2 separate regions of the Homo sapiens genome follow, and region 2 is linked to region 1. The links come from fine-mapping of genetic effects on gene expression. A gene starts in region 1. The other region holds a variant in brackets. All regions are shown on one strand. Distances are from middle to middle. Region 1 holds the start of C8orf34-AS1 (C8orf34 antisense RNA 1). Region 2 overlaps C8orf34-AS1 (C8orf34 antisense RNA 1).

Evidence for each region. PIP is the estimated chance that this variant, and not a neighbour inherited with it, causes the effect. A credible set is the group of variants that fine-mapping cannot tell apart.
Region 2: its variant is the best candidate, but not a certain one, in a credible set for the expression of C8orf34-AS1 in sun-exposed skin (GTEx, PIP 0.79).

Annotation. Positions count from the first base shown.
Region 1 is chr8:68,326,094-68,336,339 of GRCh38, reverse strand. It overlaps C8orf34-AS1 (C8orf34 antisense RNA 1), which reads left to right and starts at 4,849. Exons shown (of 3, transcript NR_038877.1): 1 at 4,849-5,033. C8orf34 (chromosome 8 open reading frame 34) reads right to left here and starts at 5,385. Exons shown (of 14, transcript NM_052958.4): 1 at 5,001-5,385. The coding sequence starts at 5,327.
Region 2 is chr8:68,303,193-68,313,438 of GRCh38, reverse strand. It overlaps C8orf34-AS1 (C8orf34 antisense RNA 1), which reads left to right. Exons shown (of 3, transcript NR_038877.1): 2 at 6,841-6,921; 3 at 8,638-9,971. Among named protein-coding and RNA genes, the nearest start is that of C8orf34, 23 kb to the left of the region's middle. RefSeq lists a silencer at 6,966-7,166. The variant T/C (reference allele first, on the strand shown) is at 4,464.

The sequences.
Region 1 (10,246 bases):
TGCCCACTCAGCCCCTTTCTTTAATTGTGCTCTGATACTTTCCAGGTGAACTCCCAACTTAGCTCTCCTTGTCATATGGGTCTTAGCTGTAGTCTTAGCTGTTCTCTTTGTATGGTTCATGGCTTCTTAATTGAATTATGAAAAAAAAAAGGGAGGAAAGCCTATGTTATTTTTGTAGTCTCATATTTCCATTGATCACATTCTCTTAAGAGAGACCCACAAATATTAAAATACTATTTTTTTTCTTTTTTTTGTAATGGGGTCTCCCTCTGTTGCCCAGGCTGGAGTGCAATGGCATAATCTTGGCTCACTGCAACCTCCACTTCCTGGGTTCAAGCAATTCTCCTGCCTCAGCCTCCCGAGGAGCTGGGATTACAGGTGTGCATCACCATGCCTGGTTAATTTTTGAATTTTTAGTAGAGATGTGGTTTCACTGTGTTGGCCAGGCTGGTCTTTGGTCTCAAACTCCTGACCTCAAGTGATCCAGCTGCCTCAGCCTCCCAATGTGCTGGGACTACAGGCATGAACCACCATGCCTGCCCAAAATATTATTTCTTTTTTCAAATTTATTGATGCCATATTGGTATATGTACATATTACTATTTCTAAGGTTATATAGTGATTTATTGAATTGAATTTTGGGTCACTTTATTAAGCTATTTAAAAGCTGCATGAAAATAAAATACATTAAGGCAGAAATGAAAAATAAATGGGCTGGTAATAGAAACATGTTAATTAAAGTAACATTTTAAAAAACTGTTTTGAAGTAAGTCAATGACAACACTTAACTTGGACTCTAGGCAAAATTTTATAAAATGGAACTGCTTTGTCTTCTGCCTCCTCTAAATGCTCTGAGATTATAAAGATTAATGCAAATTTTGATATAGGAAAAGTCTTCATAACTTTGAGCACTGGGGAAGATCACCTGACAATCATTACTCCAAAAAATATATTTACAATATTTAAGTTGAACATATTATAACTACCAAGCTTATATTTTATTACTTCTCTAATAAAAGCATTTTCCTAATCATTTTTATTAAAATGACACTTTTACCTTTATTAACGACAAATTATTTTTAAACATTAAAATATCTTTCTGGAGGGGTATTTTACCTCTGGCCATAAGTGAGTAACTAGTATCCTTCTTATCCCCAAACAACTGCCCTAAACAATCATAAGCCTGCCTAAATTAGACAAAAATATTTCTTTTCATGTATTAAATAACAGGTAGCCCACGGCTGTGATCCTTATGAGAGGGGGAACAACGAAAGGAGATCTCCGCAGACACTACAGCTCTCTGATAAACGCAAGGAGCATTTTTTAGATATGATCAGGGAGGTCAATAAAGTGAAATAATGGGCTTGCTGAGGGTTGGCAGCAAATTGGAGTTCAGGGTTGCATACATGGCTGGAAGAAGTGCCGTGGGGTACCAGAGAAGAGCAAGCTGGGCAACAGCAAAATATATAAGTGATGCAGGCTTTGATCATAAGTTTGATAAGTCCATTTTATAACATATATGCCAAATCAGTTAATGCAAATTTACACCATGTGAGTAGAAGCACTTTGAGTGGAACAGAGAAGGTGATAGTGATTCCATTCTATTTGGAGTGGGTCATACCATACTTAGAGAAATGTAGTGACTTTTGTTTGCCACATCTTCAGTACACAAATTTAAAAATTCCATGGTGATTTTATGAAGATCCCCACTATTTGGCTTCTTAGTAACTTAAGATTTCACACTCTTGTGAGTGTGATCAGGCCTGAACCAAGATATATAACTGCCCTGAGCACTCTTCCAATCAATAATGGGAGAAACTCAAAAGTTTCTATTTCTTTATATAAAATGTGTGTGTACACAAACATACATGGAATATATATATTCCACTATATATAATATTTATATATATTACAAATATTTATCTTGTAAGATGTAAACCATTACATCTTACAAAAATTAGAAAGTTTGTGAAATGTATTTTTCATCTTACACCTTCATATTATCTAATCAGAATATCATTGTCCAGAATTCTAATGCAATGATTTTTAGGCATAGTTTTGTAATGCTCCAAAACATCTTCAATGAAATTTAAAAGTAGTACAAATTTATTCACCTGAGTCAGCTGGAAACAAAATTAATTTCAATTTAAAATAAATTTTGAAACACCATACTGCATGTAACACTTTAATAAGCATCTCAAATCATAAAATATTAGCAATAAACTAAGTAAGAAATAAACTAAGTGAACAAACTAGGTAAATAAGCCCTACAGGTAAAAAAGAGGATCAAGTATTCTCAATATCAGTGAATAGGTTACTTTTTGCTATTGTTTTAAAAAACATTCATAGATTATCTTTAAAGTATCTCATACCAATTAAGTTTTCTTAAAACATTCCTAACTTAAACTATCCACAAGGGGGACATATTATCAGATACCGCATATTTTCCAAACTGAAAGAAGCCTGTGTCAGCTACACTGACTCAACACAACAAAGCATAGATGACAAGACATGAAGCGGCCAATTTCAATTTGTGAGTGGTAAAAGGAGATTTTAGCTCAGTTTCTCAAAATGTGGCCCAGAAATTAAAATTGTAGCAAACATTTGTGCTGCTTCTAAATATGTTCAGATTGCTGGGCACCTCCTCTGACCCAAATCAATTCCTGTGAAAACTATTGAGTAAGGTCCTAGAAGAGAATGGACGGTCTCTAGGTCAACAATGTCCATTTCACAGGTGGCACTGGTTTTCTAACATGAAACAAGTAGGCTACACGCTAGTAAAATCTTCCAATTTTGTGAAATACGTATAATTGTACTCTCAAAGTCAAGCTCTATCATGATCAAAATTGTTGCATAAGGAACTGTGTTACATCCAGCTTTTATTAAAAGAGAATTTATTATCCATTTTTCTCCCTTCAATTATTTAAAGTGGACATCAAACCTTAAAAAATGCACTACTCATCACTGCAATCTAAGCTAATGCCAGTGTATGTCATATGTATTCAATAAAATACGAAGCATGGTGGTGCTTGTTTTTTGGTGAGGGGACCTAAAGCTTTTATGAGACACGTTGCTATCACTTAAAATTCTTCAGCGCATAACTTGCTGGTGAGCATCAAAAGGTGGGGGTTAGGGGGCACTTCATAAATATCCATTTGAGTTTATTTTCTAATTCTGCAGAAAGTTTACATATATTCCTAATTTTATTATTATTAAAATCTTGGGGATTTTAAGATAACAAATTAAAACAGTATTTATTAAAAACAATTCATTTATTCTCCCAGGCTAATTGTACTTTATACTCCAGGAGAGTAGAGAGAAAACACACACTCTAAATGTATGTATTTTATGATTCTTTCGATGCAATTAATACACTGCGTTGCAGAAGGTTTTAGGCTTCTGCCTTTAAAAAAATTATATAGGATTATGTATAATCAATAATCATTAAACTAAAGGCAAAGAAAAGAAATCTGGTAGTTCCATCAATTTTATTTCGCTCTTGCATGGATTGCCTTTGTTAACATTTTTGGCAGAAAAAAGAATCAAAGCAATTGTAGGACTCTGCACCCCACAATGCGAGCTTCAATTGAAACAATGGTCTTATCGTCTAAGACAGATCAACGTTAAAGTTGGGCAAAAAAACTTAGGAGATCTTGCAAATCTTGTTATGTGAAACCCGTCCTCCCAAAAGACCTATTGGACCACACCTTTGTCCTCCGCGCCCTTTTTTTGCAGGGTCATTAACTCGCATTATTTTTTTGTTCTCCACAGTTCTCACTTGCTTCTCTTCAGTCTTTGCTAGGTTTTCCGCGATCTCCAGTGCAGCCCCTTCCACTTGCCGCGATTCTGCCTCTCTCAGACACTGACACGTAACCTCCTCCCCATACCAAGCCCTCACCCCAAACCAAGCTGTTAAGAACAGCTACAACTGCTTCTGGGAGACGTGGGGGGCGGGGGCAAGGCGGGGGCAAGGCGGGGGCAAGGCGGGAGCACCTCGACCCTCCCGCGAACTCTCGCCGCCGGTCAGTGCCCCCTGAACTGGATGGGACCAAGGGAGTCCCTCCGCAAGGGCCTCCACTTCTGACTACGGTCCGCACGCCCCACCCCTGCTCAGCACCCTGGCAACCCGCGGGACGCTTTGCTGGTGCCAGGCTTCAATCTCTTGTTCTCATTTTCTCGTGTCCTCGCGCTCTTCCTTCTACTGTATTTTTGTCTTAAATTCTTTAATGGCGAGAGAGAGAAAAAAAAACAAAACCAGCTCAGAGCTATAGTCTTCTTCCACAAATACGTGTGTGCTTTTCAGAACCTTTCTCCGTCCCTTTCTCCTGCTAACACATGTGGGGTCTGCAGTGCAAAGGACTCTCCTTTCGTCCAGTGACCAAATGGCAGTCTCTCAGTTTGCCAATTTCATTCATCACGCCCGCACCGACTGAAGCCTACTCCTCACCAGTTCAGCTGTCTTCCAGTTAATTGTATTAACTGCTAAGCACCTCCTCCACCTTTTCGGGTTCTATTACCGCCCTCATTAAAAAAAAAAAAAAAAAAAAAAAAAAAAAGAAGGAAAGAAAAGAAAAGAAAAAAGAAAATCCAACACGAACACTCAAGATAGCGTGAATTCAAAAAAGAAAGTGTGCGTGTGCAACACAGTCTGAGTGTGTGCATCCGTATGCGTCGCCTGCCTCAGCCTGCCCGGGTCCTGAACATGTAGCTGAGAGGTGCAGGACAGTCAGAGGGCCAAAACTTCCCCTGCCAGGCTGAGGCTGGGCCCTCCCGAGCTCACCTGTCCGCGTTCAGGTAACTGGCTAAGTGCCCGCCCGGCCGCGTTCCAGGACACCTGGCCGGGACAGAGCGAATGCCAGTGAATCCCAGGGCGCCCTCTCCCGCGCGTTGGTTCTCTAGCCCTCCTTCCCTGGGAGGGGTGGGATTGGGAGTGTTCTGTTTTCATTACTGCACCCCTTCCCCTAAAGACAACGGGACTGCCCTCCTCCACAGCGCCTTACCTCAAACAGGGGACCGATCTTGTTCTTCTCCAGGTAAGCCTGGATCCGGGTTTGCGGATGAGACGCCATGGGGAACAGATGGGACCGCGAAGAGAGTGCAGGGAGAACGCGCGGCTGTGCGCCTCCGCTGGGGACAACCCTCCTTTTACCCGGACTGGGGCCGGGACAGGAGCTCCGGAGCCTCGGCTGCCCTGCGTGGCTGGCTCGGCCCCGGCCGCGGGCGTGGGTGGCAGCCCGGGGAGCCACGCGCGCGTGGGGCGCTGAGAGCCGGAAGCCTGGGCGCAGCGCCGCCAACTCAGACAACTCCGAGGCGAGGGGAGAACTCATTCATCGCGTTCTCCGCCTCGCGCCCACCCTCGCCGCTCTCCGCAGCGCCCGGCGCAGTGGGGAAATTCGAGGCAGAGGTTCCTTTCTCCTCTGGGCGGCAGCAGCAGGAATCAGGGGGCGGGAGGCGAGCTGTGTCGAGGGGCGCACGCGGGCGGACAGGGGCCGCGGGGCTCGAACTCGCCACCGGTGTGTGTGCGTGCGTGCGTGTGTGTGTGTGTCCGTGCGCGCGCGACTGTGTGTACCTCCTTTCCCCGGTGACGGAACAAACAGCCCGGGCTGCTCCCCGAGGCTGCTCGCCCTACCAGCCGCTCCCTAGCGACAGCGCCGCTTAAAAAGCCAATGGTGAAGGTGCTTCTTTCAAAGTGCACATAAATCTGGTGCTTGTTGGCTACTCCTTGGCAGCTACAAATGCAGTTCGAAAGGGGATCGTCCCCACCGCCCCTTCTGAGCCTCTCCTCAGCACCTTCTGCCCTGCCTACTCTAGCGCAGGGGTTGAGAAGGGCAGAGTTTTGAGAAGGTGCGTGGGTTTAAGGGTTTGCCGCGAAAAAGAAGTTGCCTTCCTTTTCAAAATCTGGTTTGGCCTGGAGCAAGTCGACGGGTGAACGCAGCCTGAGAACCCAGCTGAAAACTCTCAAAGTGCAGGAGCTCAAAGGCTGGAACCAGCCTTTCAGCATTTGACAGGGAGAAGAGAAATGAGCGAGCCAGCCCTCCCCTCCAAAGTTGGCCTTCCTAATCCACGCCTTGAGTCATGTCTGTATACCTATAACTGCATCTCAGACACCACACTATCCCACTTCATAATGTTTCCTCTAGATACTGCGTGAGCTGCTCAAATTTAGCCAATACCTTTCTTATTATGCAGGGATTTCCGAGTCGAAGGTTTGCAGATAGCCCAGGCTTCCTCACAGAGCTCTCTTTCTTGTGAAATACAATACTAAGGTCCCAATGACAATTTCCCTGGCTCCTAACCATGATGTGCTGCCAAAATTAGATTTATTTCTAATAAATATAAATTTTCAGAATGATGGAAACAGTTTTCCTAAAAGCTGACTGCAGCAGTATATATTTTTTTCTTTCTTTCTTCACTGTGTTCTGGATTTCTGTTACTCATAGTTTCTTTATTGGTGTTCATGTTTTCCTTCTGTATTTTAAATATGTGGAAACATGTAATAGATAAGTGTGGAATATCCCAGGAACTATTATTAATTTCATGCATTAAGACATAAGAAATCTGCTAGAATAGCTAGGAGCTTAACCATCCCTGATAACCTGAAATGGACTTGATCCAGAGTGGAAAGATGTCCACATTAATACTTTTACAATCGGACTCATATGATCTGCCTAGGGAGGGTTAAGTTAAATAGCAGTGAGGTGTCCAGGGTTGCCTCGTGCTTTCCATTTTGGTTCGAAGGTATATTTACTTATGTATTTTTTAATGTGTCCAGGAGAAATTAAATACACAGAGTGAATACCAACATTTCTATTTGCTAAAAGGTATAGCGTAGAGCCATAAGGAAGGCCATCTATGACCCAGCTAAAAAGCCTACTATTTTTGATACCACATAAGGTACCAAGATGGTACGCTTCCTGAAATCAAGAGTCTTTCTCTTTTAAGAGGCATCAGGAGGATGCTTCTTTAAATGAAATAAAGACACTTATTAAGTCTTCACCATGCTCAGACTATTGCACTTAGGGCTTTGAATAGAAGAGACAAAGCTTCAGCTGGCAAAATGTGTATGTTTTAAAGAGAGAATGAAGCCAAGTACAAAGGCTCACGTCTGTAATCCCAATTATGTGGAAGGATCACTTGAGGCCAGCAGTTCAAGACTGGGCAACATAAAAAGACCCCATTTCTAAAACAAATTGTTTTTTTTAATTAGCTGGGCATAGTGGTGCACACTTATAGTTCCAGCTACTGGGAAAACTGAGACAGCAGGACCCTTGAGCTGCAGTTTGAGGCTGCAGTGAACTATGAGTGTGCCACTGCATCTAGGCTGGGCCATACAACAAGACTCAGTCAAAAGAAAGAAAGGAAGAAAGAGAGCAAGAGACAAAGAAAGAAGAGCAACATGAGGATATGCATACCCATTTATGTATGTTAAAACTCTGAGCATCCCAAAATTGCACATTTAAAATTCAGGGAGTATTTTCAAAGCTTTTCAAGGCCAACATTAAATATCACCTCCTTCATAAAGCACTTCTTGGTTCTTTCTATTTATCCCTAAACATGGCTTCATTACTACAATAAACATTTATTGCATAGCTTCTCAGTGACAGACATTATGTTAAGACTGGGAATTCAAAGGTGAAAGGCTTTGTCTTTGTCCTCAGTTGCTTCGTCTTGTTGAGGCAATCGGCATATATATAAATAATGGCATCAGATGCTGGGCTTGGTGGCTCACACCTGTAACCCCAGCACTTTGGTAGACCAAGACAGAAGGATCACTTGAGCCCAGTAATTTGAGACCAGCCCGGGCAGGATAGCGAGACTTTGTCTCTATTAACAATAAAATAGTAGTCTCAGCTACTCATGAGGCTGAGGTAGGAGGATCTGTTGAGCCCAGGAGTTTGAGGTTGCAGTAATTGCACCACTGCACTCCAGCCTAAACAAAGCAAGATTCTATTTCTTTTTTAAAAAAGATAGCATGTACAGAGGCACAGAGACACCCAACAGGCTGGTAGTTAAAGATATGTAAAGTATATGTGGAGGAGTATTATTTTCATGTGAGGTTAAAAATGTAAGCAGAGTTCAGCTCATTGAAAGTCCTAAATGCCTTGTTAAGAACAATAGACTTACATCTTGTGGATAATGAGAAGTGACTTGTTAGGCTACAGAATCTGTAACAAATCATGGGGTTATTGTTAGGACTTAAGATATAGGGTTAACGGGGATGGGATGGATTCCAGACATAGTAAAGGACTAATGTTGATTAACTAAATGAAGGATGAAGTTAGAGGAGGAAATCAAAGATGACACTCTGATATCTGACATGAAGCTAAGAGATGACAAATTATTTACCCAAGTCACCCAATGTATCATTGGTAGGGCAAGGTTTTAGTTCAGGTTTTTCTAACTCTAAAGCTGAAGCTATTTCTGCTCTCTACCCTGTAACCTGGAAACTAGTCAAAAATTGAGTTTATAGATATTAGCACCCCTTTGTGGGAACAGCTATGTCTCATGACTTGGCACATAGTAGATACTCCAGAAATAGCAATTAAATGAATGAATTGAATTTTAGAATATCAATTCAGTCCAGCTATGTTCTTTCAGTCTAAACTTTGCCTCTGACTCATGGCATTTATACTCTGTTTTGTTTCCTTTAGTCAATTGCATGCATATTTTGGTCTCTCTTTTAAACTGCAAACTCTCTAAAATCATGAACTGTATCTTAATAATTTTCTTTTACTTTACAGTGTGTAACACAGTATATTTTCGCATAGTAGGTTCTTCATAAAATATCTTTAATTAAGGTACTATTACTATAAGTTTTAAGATTTGTATTAGGTAGTCCCTTTAAAATTGGCTGAAAGGTAACCATTGTCTTGGATTGAATTTATCAACTTTTTCTGCACATATGCCATGGTACCTTTAGGATCCTTTCGCCGTTTTTGGGTTGGATACAGCATGAAAAGACCATTTTCGGTGAGACTGTTTTGACCTCATTGTGTTATAGAAGTGCCTGTCAGCATAATTTACAGATGTACAGAATCCAATTTATAGAATTCACTAAAGCCATTGTCCAACTCCATTTGTAAGACACCTTGCACAGTTCCTTACACAAATAGGTTTCGGAGAGATGAGGGAACAGTGGTGAAGTCCAGTTGACCCAATTAGGAAGTATTAGCAATGTAATCCATTGAAATTAATTAAATGTTGAAGTCAGAGAGCAGAGATGTTCTATATGGATTTCTTGAATTTAGACTTCTATCCCTGAAGCATACTTATCCTCTTTCTGTTTTGGTTTCACCTTGCCACTTTGTAACAAAAAGGGAAAAATATCTTTCCAAGGAACCCAGCACATATGAATAATCTGGCCATAAAAGGGAGGTGCACATAGAGAGTTTTCTTCATTTTTGCCCGAAATGCCTCCCACAACTAATGCAAATGAGCTCACATACAGCATTTACTATGTACTAGGTATTGATAACAGCACTTTATACACTCCCTCAACTCATTTAATTCTCAAAACAACATCATGAAGTAGGTACTACTATTATTCCCATTTTTTTAGATGAGGAAACTGAGACACTTACCAGGTAAGTAACTTGCCCAAGGTCATAGCTAGTAAGTAGCAGAGTATCTTGAACCCCAGTGATGTATTAAACCCCCACTGTCAAGGTTGCAAGAGTACCAATTCAAGTACAAATCAGTCTGATTCCCTTTGCTTTGGATTAGTTCTGACCAAGCTGTGTTTTGATGACTAGTTTGACTTCCCCAGTGTGTGGGTATGGGAAGGGAAGTAGTATGGGTAGCAGATAACGGGGTAACTTTCTGGCTCCATACTAAATGAATATGTTGTCTCTTGTGAGTTTGAATAATAGCTAATCAACCACGTTGGAACTGATTTTTTTTTTCTTTTTTGAGATAGGGTCTCACTCTGTCCCCCAGGCTGGAGTGCAGTGGCACGATTATAGTTCACTGCAGCCTCGACATCCCAGGCTCTTGCAATCCTCCCACCTCAGCCTCCTGAGTAGCTGGGACTATAGGTGCATATCACCAAACCCAGCTAATTTTTGTATTTTTTGTAGATACAGGATTTCACCATATTGCCCAGGCTGGTCTCGAACCCCTGGCCTCAACTGATTGTCCTGCCTAGGCCTCCCAAAGTGCTAGGATTACAGGCATGAGGCTCTGAGCCTTGCCCTGGTTCTAACTGTGTGGAAAATATCAACTTACTGGATCTACTAAATTGACAACT
Region 2 (10,246 bases), 23 kb after region 1:
GAATTCAGGCCCCTCTAATCCTCCTAGCCCCGGTGGTCTCTCACTAGCTTTACAAGGTGGCTGAATTTTGGGGAAAGGCTATTATCACTTAAGCTATAAACTAAACATCTCCCACAGTTAGCTTGACCCACGCCCAGGAATATTCAAGGGCGGCTTGAATGCTAAAGGCAAGATGGGGGTTGGCTAGATCAGATCTCCTCCACTGCCATAGTTTTCTTGCTGTTGTAACTTTTGCAAAGTCAGTTTCATTTCTACCACACAGCATTCAGGATTCAGAAATACTTGGTTTCCCTATTATTCTAGGCACACAAGAACCTTGTGAGTCCTGGCCCTTTTATTATTTATTCATTTATTCATTTATTTAGATGGAGTCTCACTCTGTTGCCCAGGCTGGAGTACAGTGGCGCCATCTTGGCTCACAGCAACCTCTGCCTTCACCTCCGGAGTTCAAGCAATTCTCCTGCCCCAGCCTCCCTAGTAGCTGGGATTACAGGCGTGAGCCACCTGGCCTGGGATCCTGGCCCTTTTAAATCAAGTATGGGCATATGACTAGTTCTGGCCAGTGGTTTGTGGGAGGATGTGTTATGTGTCGATTCCAGGGTGGAACACTTAATTGTGGGAGCAAGATCTTTGAATTGTGCTCTTTATCTGCAGTAGTGATTGTAGATGGACAGGCGGAGATAGAACCTCCTTCATCTGCATCCCTGAAAGACTAAAATGAGGGGAGTCCTCACCCACACCCTATAGGTATGCAGATTACATAGAAAAGAAAAAGGTTATTTGGGGCTGTTTTTTTAAGCACAGCATAACTTAGCCTATGCTGTTAATAATCATGCTAGCTCATACATGTGGGAAATACTTTCCCTGTGATGTTGACCTGTCAGAGTGAAAATAATACTCTACATGTGAATCTCAAAACCTGAATTATATTCTCAGGTGTGCTTCTTATTACAGACACAGCCTTGAGCAAGTTAATAATTCATCAAAAAATGTGTTGAGCACCTACTGTGTCCCAGGTGTGTCTTTGTCACATTTGTCTCTGCGCCTTGGTTTTAGCAATTATAGAATTAGAGAATTTGACTAGATTTTTAATTTTGTGATTTTAACATTATTATAGTATTACTTTGTGCTCACTTGGCTTATTTCTTGGGCTCAAGTGTGTTTTCCAATGACACCTGTGCTCCAGATCTCCTTTTTTCTAATCTTTTCTTCTGGGAGAAGATAGTGCCTCTTATGCTTATGCTGCAATTAAGCAACTTGTGGAAGAGGCTTATGTGGTGACATTAGGAAAAAAGGTAAGCAGACTGTATCCTTTAAGCCAAATCTGTGTTTTACTGGTATACAACTGTGCTGTGCTATTTATTTATGTATTGTGCATGGCTGTTTTCACTGTATGCTGGCAGAGTTGACTAATTATGAAAGAAGTAGAATTCCCCACAAAGCCAGAAAGAAAGAAAGCAAGGAAGGAGGGAGGGAGGGAGACAGGGAAGGAGGAAGGGAAAGAAGGAAGGAGGGAAAAAGAGAAGGAAGAAGGGAAGGAAGGAAGGGAGGGAGGGAGACAGGGAAGGGGGAAGGGAAAGAAGGAAGGAAGGAAACAAGGAAGGAGGGAAAGAGAGAAGGAAGAAGAGGAGGGGGGAAGGAAGGAAGGAAGGAAAGAGGGAAGGAAAGAGGGAAGGAAGGAGGGAGCCTACCTAAAATCTGGCCCTTTACAGAAACGTGCTGACTGCTAGCCTGGAAATATCTGCATGTGTTTACTCTAATTTCTTATTTATCTCTTGTTACCTGTATAAATTTCTAGAACTCCAATGATACTGCTTTTGCTAAGGTGGCCTCAGACCTCCTAACTAAACCTAATAAACCTCCTAACTAAACCTAATAAACCTAACTAAACCTAATAAACATCTTTCAGTCCATTTGATATAGGAGTTAGAAAGAAATTATTTAGGCAGATAGTGAGGGTAAAGAAGTCCTCGGTAAGGTTTTCCTTTTAATGAAAAGCAGCCCCAAAATAATTTCTTTTCTAACAAACAGCAGCCTGTAAAATCAAGCTGCAGACATAGATAAGCAAGCTGGAAGCTTGCACAGGTGAATGCTGGCAGCTGTGCCAATGGGAAAAAGCTAACCTGGGGGCCAGGTATGTTCAACATGGGGGCTCCACCTTCCCTTTTCCTTGCCAACCATGTGTACAATAAGGAGAAGACAACATGGCGCCAGCCCGGTAGAAAACACATTTGCATAATAAAAGATTAGGGTGGGGTGGCCAGCTTCTTCATGAGCTATTACAAAAGAAATAGAATGCCCCACAATCCAGAAAGAAAGAAAGGAAGGAAGGAGGGAAGGAGACAGGGAAGGAGGAAGGAAAATAAGGAAGGAAGGAAAGAAGAAGGGAGGGAGAGAGAGAGAAGGAAGAAGGGAAGGAAGGAAGAAAGAAAGGAAGGAAGGAAGGAAGGAAGGGAAAGAGGGAGGGAGGGAGGGAAGAATGGAAGGAAGGAAAACGGAGGGAGGGAAGAAAGGAAGGAAGGAAAGGAAGGGAAGGAAGGAAGGAAGAAAGGGAGGGAGGGAGGAAGGGAAAGAAAGAAAGAAAGAAAACGTCACACCTGGTCCAACCAATCTCTGGGCCCTGTGTAAATCAGACACCACCTCCTCAAGCCAGTCTATAAAACCCAGTGCACTCTGCCATGACTGAAGTCTCATTTGGGCGCCCCTCTCTTTCCCAGGAGAGAGAGCTATTCTCCATTCTCTTTCTTTTGCCTATTAAACCTCTGCTCCTAAAACCATTTCTTGTGTGTCCATATCCTTGATTCCCCTGGTGTGAGACAGTGAACCTTGGGTATTTACCCCAGACAGTGACGCCGCTTCACTTTCAAGAAGGTATCTCTAAAAGATAAAAGATCAGATTATGGCTAAAAAGAGATGTAAAGTTAATGGACAGTTGATTTTTAATTCTTTTTAATTTTTAAAATAATTTTAAGACTAATTTCAAATACAGACAAAATATATTTAAATTTGATTTTACTTAATACTTTAAATATAAAATAATTTTAAGATACATTATGTTTTATGATAAAAGAATTTTTTAAATTATAATAGGAAAAAAGAAAAGTCCTGGAGGAGAGAAACAAAGTTTTGATTATGAGGAACTGCTGCAATCTCACTTTGATTCTATTGAAGGGTACAGCAAGGGAGAATGGCAATAAATTATTTAGGAAATATGTGTTCAGGGTAGAGCACAGATAGCATCATACATCAAGGAAAGAAGTTTAAGCTTTATTTTGTAGGCAGCGGGACAGAGTGATGTTTTTCAGCTTAAGGTGACCTGCTCAGACTAGAGTTTTATGGAAATCAATCCTGTAACAACTAATGTCCCTGATATATTTTGTTTGATCTATACACAACACAATATAGCACATTTACATTTCATTTCTTCTAAATAAATTCAGTACTCCATAAAAATTTATTCTATACTTACTTGTGTACTTTTCATATTTTCACTACTCTCAAGTCAATTCCTTGAGGAGAAAGAGATCTAGAAAATATCACTGAGTTTTCTTACATGAAAAAAATTATTATAAAATATACATTGCTTCACTTAACTTTATGCTTACAAGTTTATGACTAGTAGGCTTAACTTTTCCGTTGGAAAAAAATCAAGATTATTATATTTTATGACATGAATTTTGTAACTGCCCAATGGGTTCTTCCTCCCCACTGCACACACAAAATCAGCTCACTGAGACTATGGCATTGCGGTAAAAAAAAGAGTTTCATTGATGCAAGGCCAGCTGTGCCACACGGGAGATGGAGTTATTACTCAAATCGATTTCCCCAAAGGCTTGGAGGTTAGGGGTTTTTCAAAGATAGTCTGGTGGGCAGGGGGCTAGGATAGGGTGCATGCTGATTGGTTGGGTTGGAGATAAAATCAAAGGAATGGAAGCTGTCCTCTTGTGCTGAGTCAGTTCTTGGGTGGGGGCCACAGGGCTGGTTGGTGGGTCTAGGTGGGGCCGTCCAGTTGTCAGAATTGCAAAATTCTGAAAAGATATCTCAAAAGGCCAATCTTAGGTTCTATAACAGTGATGTTATCCGCAGGATTAACTGGAGAAAGTGCAAATCTTATGACCTCCAGAATAACGGCTGGTAATTATTGAGAATTTAAGCCCCTCTTATCCTCCTAACTTGGTAGTCTTTCATTTGTTTTATAAGAACAGTTTAGTTTCGGGAAGGGCTATTATCATTTAAACTATAAACTAAATTTCTCACAAAGTTAGCTTTGCCCACATGCAGAAATGGACAAAGAGAACCAATCTCTAAGGCTAGAAGCAAGATGGAGTCAGATGTCTCTTTCCATCATAATTTTGCAGAGACAGTTTCAATTTGAGCTAGAAGAATGAATGTTCTTTCTCAACAATAGAGAACATGCTTGATGGTATTCTTTAATATAACTACACTTAAATTTTATTTTCTTA[T/C]TCATTAAACAGTTAAACAGCTTTATAAGACATGATGAAAGCAGCCATCCCCTAGTTCCTTCTTCACCCTGATCTGTGATCTCCAGAGGAAATGATGTTCAACTCATTTTTTTCTGGTATTTATTATCAAATTCCTCAACGATAATATAGAATATTGTTTCTTAGTTTTTTCAATAGTAGTATCTACTGACTTCATACTATGGAAGATGAGGATTGAGTTCTATAATGTACCCTTTCCTATAGTCACCCACTGTAGTTATTGATCTTTTTTATTAATATTCAATTTGACATTATGATTTGCATATAATAATCCATAGCTGAACCACACACTCATTAATGAAGGAGCCTTTTTTGTGTAACACTTTTGTTGCTTCACTTTAATCAAGTCCTATTGCTTGTTTAATTCCTTTCTTATGTACCTTCCACTGATTTTTGCCCAAACTCCCACCCATTCATCTAAATAAAACTCCCCACAACCTGTTCATAAACAACAAGCAAATGTGATTGTTTTGTTTCTTAGAACAATCCTTCTAGAGTCCTTGGATACCCTTGCTCTAATTGGGAAAATTTGCTTCCTGGGACAGCTCCTCTTCATTATACTAGGATTTCCTTTCACCATCATCTCAGGAATTCACTTCACTCCACTCTAAAGTCAGATTTCCTGTTTCCCAGAAAACAGTTCATATTTCTTTCTTTATTGGTTTACAAGTTTACTTCAGGTGAGCATCACAGTAAATTACTGACAAAGTGTGCATGAAAGATCAATTTTTTTGAGACTTTTGCATCTTTTTAAATGTTTTATTATTATAATCCCACCACTTGACTATTTGATAATACAATGCTAAATTGGAAATAATTCAGAATTTGAAAGGCATAATTCCATCATCTTTTGACAATAGTGCTGTAACACCATTCCAATCCCCAGTTTTTTGTTGACAACTTGCTTCCACCCCCTCCTCACCCACCCTCCCCACTCTGCCCTACTTCATCTTTCCATCCCCTACTCCATGTTCTGGAAGCTTTCCAAATAAAGTCTCTGTCCCTGGGTTCTGAAATGTCTTGGTAGGGGTAATATCTTTCCTCAATCACTGTGATAGTGTTAGAGTAGGTAGTTAGCCAGACATGAGCAGGACAGGAGAGGGCCCCCCACCTCACCAGGAATGTCAGGTGACTATCAGGTTATAGTCAGGTGGTTATTAAACTCTAAAATAATAAGTGGTAGCGGCCAGCACCAGGAAGAGCTGTCTCCCAATAGACAAAAAACACCTGAAGCTGGTGATCAGCAGCTTCCCATTAAGATCTTAGGAGTTGGGTGATTGGGCTCAAGCATGCGCACTAAGAGGCACAGTAGTAGAGTTTAACTGGTATATGACCTTCCTCTAGGAACACTTGACTGGTAAGGGAAAAACACCTCAAGTGAGCATGCGCACAACTTCAGTAAACACACTGCATATGTGGTGCCTCCCAAGTGCTGGCAGGCCACTGCACATGCAGACAGCCCATCCCAAGGGAAGAATCAGAGAGAAGAGACATAAAACCCTGGAAGCATGCCAACATATAAAACCCCACGTCAAGGACTAAATGGCACACTTGGATCTCTCAAGTCACCTCCATGGTCCTCTTCCAAGTATACTTAACTCTCTTTCATTCCTGCTCTAAAACTTTTTAATAAATATTCACTCCTGCTCTAAAACTTGCCTTGGTCTCTCACTTTGCTTTATGGTTCTCATATGAATTCTTTCCTCTGAAAAGGCAAAAATCAAGTTACTGCAGACAAATATGGATTCATCCCTGCTTACATACTTTGGTGCTGTTGTTACCAAAACACCAGGGGTTCGGTCTAGGTCCTGCTACTTGCCACACAGAAAGCCAAGCCCTAAGATGACAACTATTGACAAGGAAGAAGGCTTTAATCAGGTGCTGCAGCTGAGGAGATGGGAGCTCAGTCTAAATCCATCTCCCTGACCCACTAAAACTAGGGGTTTATATAGAAGGGAAGAAATGTAACAATGTAAGAGAACAGGAACTAGGGAGGGGCAAGGAAGCAATAATGTTGAATGATAGGTCCTGGCATCTGATTGTCTGGATGTGGTAATCTGGTGAATTTTAGTTCCTTGATATTTTTTTTTTGAGAGGCCTGAAAGTTGTTTCCTGAGGAAGGAACTCAGATAAAACAAATATAAGTTTTAAGTTTTAAGACCAAAAGTGTCAATTCCTATGTTTATCAAGAAGAACTGTCTATGGGACAATTGGGTCAGGTTCACCATGACTGGGATACTGCATGGGATGGGTTTGTGAGAGCACCAGGTATCCTAAGGGAAACTTTGGAGGGAACCAGCTACCAGATGGTTTGATTAGTCTTTTTTCCTATACCCAGGTTGGACACCTAATTTGCACATCAGGACTGCCATGGACCATGGTGCAATGAAGGTGAAGACTGGAGCACTCATCACCCACGGTGGGTTCCCAAGGACTCTCCACTCTACTGAGGGAATACCACCAGTCTACCACTGGTCTGTATCTCCTGCCACGCTGGGGAGGTGGAGCATGAGCACAGGTGTTAGGAAATGAAAGATTGTGAACTATGCCTGGGCAAGATGAAGCCAGAGGAAACTGGTGGAGGTCCGCAATGGTCCTGATGGGCAAATCGATTGTCCAACCTGGATATAGGGATGAAAGACTAATTGAATCATCTAGTAGCTGGTTCCCTCCAAAGTTTCCCTCAGTATAGCTGGTGCTCTCACAAAACCCATCCCATACAGTTTTATCCAAGTCACAGCACCAAAGTATGTTAGCAGTGGTGAATCCATATGAGTCTGCAGCAACTCAATTCTTCCCTAGTCAGAAGAAAGAATTCATCCGCAGAGCATAAGTCAGAGTGAGAGATGAAGGCAATTTTTACAGCAGGAGCGAAAGTTTATTTAAAAGTTTTAAAGCAGGAAAGAAAGGAAGTAAAGTACACTTGGAAGAGGGCCCACTGGGCAACTCCAGAGTTCAAGTGTGCCATTTAGTCCTTGACTTGGGCTTTTTATATGTTGGCATGCTTGTAGGGTTTTGCATTTCTTCTTTCCTGATTCTTCCTTGGGGTGGGCTGTTTGCATGTACATGCCAGCACTTGGGAGGGGCCCCATGAGTAGTATGTTTACTGGAAGTTGTGTGTATGCTCACTTGAAGTGTTTTCCCCCTTATCAGCTGAGTGTTCCTGGAGGAAGGTTATATGCCAGTTAAACTCCACCATTATGCCTCTTAATGTGCATGCTTGAGCACACTGAACTAACTCCTGAGATCTTATTGGGAAACTGCTGACCACCACCTTCAGGTGTTTTCTATCTATTGGGAGACTGCCTTTCCCCGGTGCCAGCAGCAACCAATTATTATTTTAGAGAAACAGTTTAACAACCACCTGACTAGCACCTGATGGTCATCTGACATTCCTGGTGGGGTGGGGGGCTTCTCCTGCCCTGCTCATGTCTGTCTGGCTGTCCACTCTAATAATAGACACATAGTCCTTTCAGTCTAGGAAAGTACATTCTTTCCTACCTGTTGTGGGACATTTTCTTCTGTTATTTCTTTGGTAATTTCCTCAGAAACATTTTTTCAATTCTCATCGTCTAGATTACTACTTAGATGATGTTGAATCCTTTTGCCTAATGCTATATTTTCTTATCTTCACTCTTCTATTTTTCCATCTCTTTGTCTTTTGGGCAGATTGTCTCAACCTAAACTTCCCATCCTCCTGTTGATTTTATGTGTATTTAGGAGATGGGATTTACTATTTGAGAGCATTTTGTTGTCATAAGGTTCCTTATTTATTTTGCCTTTTCTTTTGTAAATTGACAAATAAAAATTGTACATATTTATGATATATAGCATGATATTTTGATATATGTATACACTGTGGAATGACTAGTCAAGTGAATTAACATATCTATTACCACACATACTTACCATTTTTTGTAGTGAAAGAACATTTAAAATCTACTCTCTTAGCAATTTTCAAGTATACAATACATTCTTATTAATTTTACTCACTGTGATGTAGAATAGCTCTCTTCTACTTACTTCTGCTAACTGAAACTTTGGATCTGTTGACCAACATCTCCTCAACTCCTTCGTCCTTCAGCTCCTGGTAACCATAATTCTACTCTCTATTTCTTGTTTCTTTTTGAGACAGGGTCTCACTTTGTTGCCCAGGCTGGAGTATAGTGCCCTGATCACAGCTTGCTGCAACCTCAAGCTCCCATGCTCAAGCAAGCTTCCTGCCTCAACTTCCCAAGTAGCTGAGACCACAGGCATGCTCCATGACACCTGAACTCCTGAACTCAAGCGATCCTCCTGCCTCAGCCTTCCAAAGTGCTGGGATTACAGGCATGAGCCCCTGAACCCTGCCTACCCTCTGTTTCTATGTGGTGTTTGTCTTTCTAAGCCTGGCCTATTTCGTGTAACATAATTTCCTCCAGATTTATCCATATTGTCTCAAATGACCAGATTTCTTTCTTTTTTAAGGCTGAATAGTATTCCATTGTACATATATACTACATTTTATTTATCCATTCATCTGTTGATGGACACTTAGGTTGATTCCATATCTTGGCTATTGTGAATAAGCTGCAATGAACATAGGAGTGCAGATACTGCTTTGACATATTCATTTCATTTTCTTTGGATATGTATCCAGAAGTGGAATTGGGCTGGAATATAGGCAGTTCTATTTTTAATATTTTGAGGAAACTCCATATTACTTTCCATAATAGCTGTGCTAATTTACATTCCCACCGCCAATGTATAAGGGCTTCCTTTTCTCCACATCCTCTCCAACACTGGTTATCTCTTGTCTTTTTGATATGTTTTCTCTTCTCTGTAAAGCTATTGGTTGTAGCATTTTACTTTTTCCAAATTTTTTTAATCAAACTTTTGAAATGTATAGCTGAAATGAAAGAATTTTAGCATGAATGCTAATATACACTCAGCACCTATATTCTTGCTTTTTCATGTATTTACTCCTGAATTAATATATTACTTGTTATATGCTTTTGAAAGTAAACTGCAAACAAGTGCATGCTTCTCCTAGATCTTTCCACATGCTCTGCCATTAATTAGAGTTCAATGTTCAATTTTTTCCTTTTGATGTACAATTAATACACAATTAATTTACACACACATTTTACTTAGTTCTGAAAAATGTATATACTTTTATAACTCAAAGCCCATCATTATACAACATTACTATCACCCTAGCAAAATCTTTTGTGTCCCTTCTCAATCACCAATCCTGACCACACCCCAAGAAAACTACTGTTCAAATTTTTCTCCATCATTGATTGGCTTTGTCTGTTTTAGAACTTCATAAAACTAAAATACTGTAGTAAATTATGTACAATTTTATGACTAGCTTCCTTTGCTCAATATAATGTTTTCGAGATTTATTCATATTGCTGCATGTCAGTAGTTGGTTCTTTTTATTGCTGCATATTTCATTGAATAAAAATGCCAAAGCTTGTTTATTCATTCTTGTCTCACATCAAAGTATCTGGGGGATGTTTTCCACTTTTGGCTATTAGAAATGAAACAGATTTGAATATTGTCGTACAGGCTTTTTATGCATATATATGCCTTCTTTGAGTAAATACCCAGAAATTATGTTACTGGATCATAGGTTAATATATGTTTAGTTTTAGAAGAAAATGCTACCTCTTTTTTCCAAAATATTGTCCCATTTTACACTCCCAGCAGTAATGTATGAGATTTCCAGTTGCTGCACATCCTTACCAAAAATTAGCTTT